3 separate regions of the Homo sapiens genome follow, and regions 1 and 2 are each linked to region 3. The links come from fine-mapping of genetic effects on plasma protein levels. A gene starts in region 3. Each other region holds a variant in brackets. All regions are shown on one strand. Distances are between the middles of the regions.

The links. PIP is the chance, under the fine-mapping model, that this variant and not a neighbour inherited with it causes the effect. Protein levels are from antibody-based Olink assays in UK Biobank. Linkage for the fine-mapping came from a reference panel and not from the study's own genotypes, which makes the PIPs less certain.
Region 1: its variant is fine-mapped to the plasma level of the PXDNL protein (UK Biobank, PIP above 0.99).
Region 2: its variant is fine-mapped to the plasma level of the PXDNL protein (UK Biobank, PIP above 0.99).

The regions. Positions count from the first base shown.
Region 1 is chr8:51,279,357-51,282,209 of GRCh38, reverse strand. No RefSeq gene overlaps it. Among named protein-coding and RNA genes, the nearest start is that of PXDNL, 530 kb to the left of the region's middle. The variant T/A (reference allele first, on the strand shown) is at 1,434.
Region 2 is chr8:51,243,337-51,246,189 of GRCh38, reverse strand. No RefSeq gene overlaps it. Among named protein-coding and RNA genes, the nearest start is that of PXDNL, 560 kb to the left of the region's middle. The variant G/A (reference allele first, on the strand shown) is at 1,229.
Region 3 is chr8:51,808,244-51,810,837 of GRCh38, reverse strand. PXDNL (peroxidasin like) reads left to right here and starts at 1,393. Exons shown (of 23, transcript NM_144651.5): 1 at 1,393-1,657. The coding sequence starts at 1,494. RefSeq lists enhancers at 976-1,497, 1,498-2,020.

The DNA.
Region 1 (2,853 bases), 530 kb after region 3:
AGTTTGGAGACATTGGAGACCCCACGGAGAGAGGAAGAGAGTGAAGATAAGAAATTAGGAGGTGACAGATATCTTGGCAAGGTTGCTGAAATGGCAAACACACAAAAGGAATTCTTAGTTCAGTAGAGGAAAATAAAGAGCTCCCTTTTTGAGCTTCAAATTAAGAATGAGAGAATGCCAGGAGGTATAAAGTTTCTATCAACTTATTAATAATAATCATATTTCCAATATGTTCACAAATCTCCAAAAGAATTAAAAGCTGCCTTTTAGGTAAAGGCTCTGGTGGATTTCTTAGACTTCCCAGCCAGGGAAACTGGTAATTTTCTGAGTCAGGTGAAACCTCCTCCAGGTGGAGGCAGGTGACTACCACTCAGCCCCTACGCAGCAGCTCTTGTCAGTGTCATGCACCCAGGCAGTCCTCTTCAATGCCATAGGATCTGTCGGTGATGGCTCACCTTGGATCTCTTTCAGGAGATCCACAGTTGGCCAGTAGAAAGCACACCCTGTGCCCTGCCATAGGGAGAACGCAACCCCTTCCAGTCATAGCCCTCTCTGTTCACTGTCTGAGCTCCACCTAGAGTCGTCTCCATGTGCGTCTTAAGTCCCTGTGTCCCACACAGGCCATGGGAGAAGTGGTTTTTGAGCCCCTCTCCTGTGACATTTATGCAGAGTGTGTGAGAACAGAACTCCAGCATTTTTTGTTGCCATAGCAGTCCCCCTTTTTATCTGTAACTTCTTACTGAATTCCCAACTTTGCTCTCCCTAGGCAGGAATGGATGGTGGACTAGTGACAGCAAAGCTGGATTCATGTTGTGGCCTGCTTGGCACAGAGCCTGCACCTGGTCAGTCCCTGGACACTCTTCATGGCCAACAGCATCGAGCCCCAGAGAAAGTCCTGACATTTTGTTCTTGTTGAGCAAGAGGCAACCTTCTGAAACATCAGTTTGAGAGACCCAAGTTCTCAATAATAACATATCTTAAGTAGCAAATGTTCTAGTTGATGTTGCCTTATCCTCAGAGTAAGTGTTACAGATAGGCCAGAATATCTTTGCATCCTTGAGAAGATAGCTATAAAAAAGTCTGGGAGTTGATTGTTCTCTGCAGCTAAGGCATCTAGATATTATTAGTGACTCAATTATCATCTACTCTATCTCTTCTCTAAAATGTTTTCAAGTTCAAAAGAAAAAAATATTTTTTTCTTACCGTCAAAGGCAGTTTTGCTCACTTTTCCAAGAGAAGGTATAACAATAAAAGCCAAGTCATTGTTGATCATTTATTTTTTTTTTTTTTGAGACAGTGTTTTGCTCTTGTCACCCAGGCTAGAGTGCAATGGTGCAATCTTTGCTCACTGCAACCTCTGCCTCCCGGGTTCAAGCAAGTCTCCTGACTCAGCTTCCTGAGTAGCTGGGACTACAGGCATATGCCACCACACC[T/A]GGAAAATTTTTGTATTTTTAGTAGAGACGGGGTTTCGCCATGTTGGCCAAGCTAGTCTCTAACTCCTGACTTCAGGTGATCCGCCCGCCTTGGCCTCCCAAAGTGCTGGGATTACAGGCATGAGCCACTGTGCTTGGCCTGATCATTTAAAATTCTTAAGATGCTAGAAATTCAGGTATATTTATCAAAAATATTATAATATGAACATTTAAAAAGAGTTCTAAAAACTTTGATAAAGAAACTTAGCAGTAAGTTTAATTTCATTACAAAGTATACAAATAGATAAATTTCAAACATTTTAGGTTTATTTAAAAAATATTGACACTGTCTAAGGGAGAATCAACACCAAAGTGTTGGCTACATTTCAAACACAATTTTAAAAAACATTCTTATATGAAAGTTTACTTAGCATGCTTAACTGTTTCTGAATATTCATCTAGATTCTCTGAAGAACACTAATTTTTAAAAAATCTCTCAATGAAATTAGTGCTGCAGCTCTTGGTCTTTGCAAACTCTAAAAGCCTAGTTAAAAGCATATAAGCCATATGTAAGCTTCACTCTTAATTATTTTGCTTATTATTTTAATGTTTATTGTACAGTCATTAATTTGAAATTTTAGAATTTGGCAGCTGCAACACATGCAGCATTAAGGCTTTTAATAGCACATTCCGTTTTGCTTCTCATGAAAATTGAGAAGTCAGATATTATTATCCGTTTCCTGAAATATATGAGACATACTGTTTATTTGTGCCTAGAGCCAATGAGTAATTTTTAGCATTTTCAAAATTTAATATACTCCAAAATATTCTTAGAAATGTTTAATTAAATTGAATTAGATTTGGCATCTGTTTTTATTGAGCACTATAGAAACCATAACTCGCTAAGGTGGCGTTTAACAAGTCTGTTAATTCTCTTTACTCATGACACTATACATATTTGCAAGTAATAAATGCTTTTTTATTATTCCTTAATTCATTATGTGATAATTTATTGAGTGATTCATATTAAAAATAATTGTAATATAAAAATGATTAAATATGCTCACAAATCGTGATTTATTATACATACATTCAACCATTTACTCTAAGAAGCACCTTCAAATAGTAGGAAATGTGGAAAATCATTCCATTTTTGTAAAGTTGCTTTTCTAAGTATATTTTGGTGAAAAATTTTAAACTTTCATTTGCATTTAGTTTTATGTAATTGATAGAATGATGATGGAATTTATTGGTTTTGTTTAGTGACATAGTAAAAAAGGTTATCATGGGACAGTGGATTCTTTATGGAACTTAGAAGCTAATCAGTCAAGAAAGGAGAGCTGGTATCTACATAAATAATCTGCACAAATATTTTTTCTTAAAATATATATATATATATATTATGTATTTGAATACATATATTCGAGGAAGAGTAAACACG
Region 2 (2,853 bases), 560 kb after region 3:
TTTGTATTCCTGTGTTAGTTTGCTTTGTCTCTCTAATTATGGGAGACAGTGATTGACTTTGTGACTTCAATTATCAGATAGATATAAAAGGAATTGATGATTTTCAATTTGTTCAGTTTCCTTTATCTTCTTGTAGAGATGGAAGTGATAACTTTTGGAGCCCTTAGATGCCAGACTGGAAACTGGAAGTTACCCTAAGCCATTTTTATCTTAACTTCATTTTTATTTCATCTTGTAATCATGAATGATGGATGTACAATTTTATCTAAAAATTTTATTTAAATGAACTCTTCTAAGAGCAACTAGTATGATAATTTTTTCCTCAAACATCTTTTGTCTTATTTTATCTTTTGAAGAAATACATATAGGTAACATTCACCAGGCTGGAATGCAGTGGCGTAGTCTCGGCTCACTGCAACCTCTGCTTCCTGGGTTCAAGCAATTCTCCTGCCTCAGCCTCCCGAGTTGCTAGGACTACAGCCACATGCCACCAAGCCCAGCTAATTTTTGTATTTTTAGTAGGGACGAGGTTTCACCATGTTGGCCAGGATGGTCTTGATCTCTTGACCTTGTATTCCGCCTGCCTCGGCTTCTCAAAGTGCTGGATTACAGGCATGAGCCACGGCACCCAGTTGATGATAAGTATGTTATATTGAATTTGTCTACATGCTGTGTCTTTAGAATGCTGAGCAACTATGCATAACTCAGTCGTCTTTAATCTCCAAAATTTCAAATATTTCTAAGGCAAAATATTCATAGTTCAATACTCAATTCCAAATACTTCCACTTAAATATATATTTAGAGACATAGATATAAAGGCATTGCTATTATTGATTTTTATAATCCACTAGAGTTTAAAACTGAGATTCTAATTAAGTTGGTTGTTGGACTCTAACTCAAGTGTTGGCAAACTAAGACCAGGAAGTCAGATTTAACCCATCACTTGTTTTTATAAATAAAGTTGTATTGTTTCACAAACAAAAATTTATCTACATATTATCTATGGCTGCATTCACATTACAGTAGTAGAGTTGAGTAATTGCCATAGAGCCTGCATGTCCTATAAAACTTAAGACATTTACTCTCTTACCCTTTACAGAAAAAAAGATTACCAACTTACTTGAAGATATAGAGAAGATTTTGAGTTTTTTCAGTGTACATATATTTAATAAGCTAAACACTCTATGGGGTGAATTTGCATTAGTTTTGTGGGTTTTTTTAAAACCT[G/A]TATTTGTTATAGGCCATCTATATTTCTATGGCTATAAGGTGGTAATTTAAAAGGAAGAAAATTTGATATTTATATACTTCATTGAAAAATTTACAAATATAGAGTATAGAAATGGCAATTTTTTTTAGTTACTATTCCCTTTTATTAAGTCTTCATTCTGAATTTTAAACTTTTCATGTTGCCTCTGCTACCTCTTCTTGTTACTTATAATTTACTTGTCTCCTAGTCATTTCTATTTCATTCATTTGTGAGTTTAACATCCTGCTTAACATCTCCCCTCCCATTTCCCTATCACTATTCCTTGTGACTTCAACAATTGTAGATAATATTTGCCTTCATTGCATCTCCTCACTGACGACATTTTTACTTAGCAGCACCACCCAGTCCATTTCCGTATTATATCATTAACCTCATCACCAACAACAAAACTGCATCACCACTTCTTTTTCTCATTGTCAGTTGCCCTGTTGTGCTGTCAAACCCTCCCTGGCCAGCCTGGATTTCATGGTACATTGCTATAATTTATCTTTTGCAGACATTCTTGGTTCTCTCACTTCTTTCTCCGGTTAAATTACTTTGACAGAAAATCAAAGATTGCAGGCTTCATCTAGCTCCTATTCTGCCTGAGAACATGACAAGATAGTGCTAAAGAGTCTAACTCAAATTCATGATCACAGAATTCAAATGGATATTTGGAATCTTTCAAATATGACCAAGCAATCTGGTCATATTTTCTTACTATATTTCTTACTCCCTATTTTCTATTTTCTTGTTATAAAAATAAACTGTTCTAGTTCCTACCAAACATCCTACCAAAGATCCACCTCTACTTGAGTACTAGATCTCATCTGGTCTTACTTCTCAAATATTAAATTATTGCCAGTTATCTCTTCTTTCCCCTGCATAAGCGTATCTCTATTTTTACTGTTTTAGTTATATCAGCATAAAATCATGTGTTCTTTTAAAACTAAACTGTCTCCTGACCCCTTGATGCCACATAGGTTTCTAGATATTGTCTCGTCTCTCTACTAGACTAACAAGAATAACAAGATAATGTGTATTTGTTGAAAGAATTTTCTACAGACACTATCATAATTTCCTTACTTCATGTTCTCTTCTCAATTCTCTCTAGTCAGGCTCTGACCTTACTTCTGTGTTGTCAAATCCAATGTTCACTTCTCTGTTTATATCTCACCCAGCTGATTTTCAGTATTTGACACTGTTGACCATACCTCCCATCTTGAACTCTTTTTTCCCTGGGCTTCTAAGAAAACAAAATGCTCAGTATTTCCTTCTATAAAATATTTCACCATCTACTTTCTTTCTTTCTTTTTTTTTTTTCTTCCTGGCTCGTCTTTCTTTTTTTCTCATCTACAAAATATTGCATCACTTGCTCCCAGGCCCTTTGATCTTGTTCTCTCTACCTACTCTTTTTATTATCTCAGCTCTTTCATGGCTTCAAATACACCTATATGTCAATGACTCTAAAATATGTTTCTTAGCCCTGATTTTTCTCCATTACCCCAGACGTATATCAAACGGTGCCTTTGACATCACCATTTGGATGTTAAATTTACATTTCCAACTTAACATGTCCAAAATAGAACTGTCACAACCATGATTC
Region 3 (2,594 bases):
CTACCCTTTTTAAGTCTACTTTATGAATGCAAGATATTTTTATATTTTTGTATTTTATATATTTTATATTATTTATATTTTTTGTATTTTATATTTTGAACTGCAAACAAGGCACAAACCTGCAGGTCTTGTCTATGTCCTCCAAATCACAGGCACTGCCAAGAGCATAGTGATTGTTGGGATTTAAAGGAATAAATTTCGTTTTTTGGCTTTATTGGTATACTTGGACAATAAAAGTCATGTGAACAATGTCAAATGTAAAGTTTAAAATAAATCATTCTTGTTCATGGAGATTAGTTTTGTTTTTTAGATCTTTTTACATTTTAATCTCCCCAAAATCACATATTTAGATATGAACATTTTGCCAAAAGAGGGCAGTATTCGCCTACAGTAGAATGTAAAGGGACTGAAACATTTCTGCAGAGACAAGGATGAACTTATTTTCCTCTTAAGATTGGTCTACTAGTCTGATCATCTGGGATTGACCATGCAAGTTTTAATTTGTTTTCTATTACTTTTATGGATTTAAAACATTTTTGTTTGAAAATGTTAGTCTTTAAAGATAAAGCCAAAAATCTGTTTAAAAATACCTGCTTACAGAATGACCAAAAAGTAGATGTTTTCATATTTATTAAGTTTTCAGACACGTCCTCAACGAGGTGCTGCTCACTTCAGGGAAAGATGGCCAGTTCAAACTGCTGATGAAAAGTCTGCAACCAGCAAGACCACTGCTGCCAGTGTGTCCTGAGGGAGCTTGCATCTGTTTGACTTTACATATACATACTTAGGTTTGTCCATCAGTTGTATCCTCTTGAAGGAGGTATGTGAGTTCATGGTTTTAAGCATATAAATTTAAACGTTAAAAGAAGAAATCAGAAGTAGCCCGTTTGAGTCTTACATGAGTGAAATGTGTTGGGTTTCAGCAGCAGAATATATAGAAGGAAATGAAACAATTTTTATTAAAGAGCATAGTTTGGAATAAAGAAAGAATATGTGCACCTAGATGAACGAATTAGAACTCTGCCTGCCCTTTAGGGTTTGGTAATGTTACCAGATAAAAAAGAAGAAAAGCTGTTCTGCATTGTTTCAATACATTCTTAATCAACTTGGGCTTCAAGAGGACAGCTGGAGGCTAAGAGGTCGGGTTTTTCATCAAATGCGCAGTGGAAGTAATTTTGGAAAAGTTTGTTTGCATTATGCTGCCTAAAACACGGTGTTTTAGAAAGAGGCTTTTGCATTGAAAAGCTTCTCGTCCTCGCCTCTGGGAGTCTAGTGCTTCCTAGAGCTGCTTGTGCCCTCAGCCCTGTAATGTGATATCCCTCCTCCTGGATTGGTCAGAGGGGTGTCCTTTCCCTGGGAGCTGCTTTCCACCACGGCTCCCAAACTTGGCTCAGTCCAGCAGCCACCATCACCACCACTGCGGTTGCTGCTGCAGCTGCAGCTGCTGCTCTCCCTCCGGCTGCTTCTTCGCGTGGCCAGCAGCGAATGGAGCGATGGAGCCCAGACTGTTCTGCTGGACCACTCTCTTTCTCCTGGCCGGGTGGTGCCTGCCAGGGTTGCCCTGCCCCAGCCGGTGCCTTTGCTTTAAGAGCACCGTCCGCTGCATGCACTTGATGCTGGACCACATTCCTCAGGTACCACAGCAGACCACAGTTCTGTAAGTTCACATAAATTCCCCAGAAACCCTCTTCCCCAATGCTTCATTGCTTCTCTGCTAGGACCTGTGTCCTTTTAATTTACGATTCCTAATGCTCTCCCTGCTTGTATACTTAGAAGAGGCTTTTCACTTTTCAAACAATTTCATGGTTCTGCTCTGTTAGACTAGAAAATGTAAGCAATGATGAGTTGACATAAATATATTTGTTTTGGATTCAGTTCTCTTCCAGCATCTTCCAGAACTTAGCATTGAGAATTCTCGTCTTCATTCTTCCTTCAATAATTTTCCTGCATACTTTCTCAATTTATTCCTATTCATCCTCTACTCCCAAGTCTTTGGGCCTCTTAATTGGTCAGCACGTGTCTGCCCCATTTGGAAGGAACTAATTTAACTTTAGAGTGTGGTTTCAATTGATTATGTGCTGACAAATTGTTAGGCTTTGTACTGTGTGTACCTCCTGGGAGGGTGAAGTCCTGAGCCCTCAGCACTTGAAGCACTGTCTGTCTCCAGAACAGACCCTCAAATGGTCCAGTAGAGTTCTTGAATGCTTAAAAGCCTTGTGGAGCAGCCGCTTAGACTAATCGGCATCTAGGAGGCATTACGGGATAGTAGGGCAAACCAGAATTTGGAAGTCAAACAGGTCTGAGTTCAAATCCTATCTTCTCATCTTTAATATTCAGATAATAAACCCAAACATTTAGATTTATTTAGATTAAATTAAGTCATAATTAGATAATTAGAAGGGCAAATCACCACAAAAGAAGAAAAGGATCTGTTTCTAGGGTCTATTTTTAAAGAAAGAAAAAGACGACAAATTCAAAAATTTAAGAAAAAATAAAAGAAGAAAAGGAAAAATGCTGAAAGATGCAGACTAAAGAGGTTTCCTGCTCTATAATAAATATTTTGTGGGTTGTGTCATGTTCATGGAAGACAAAAC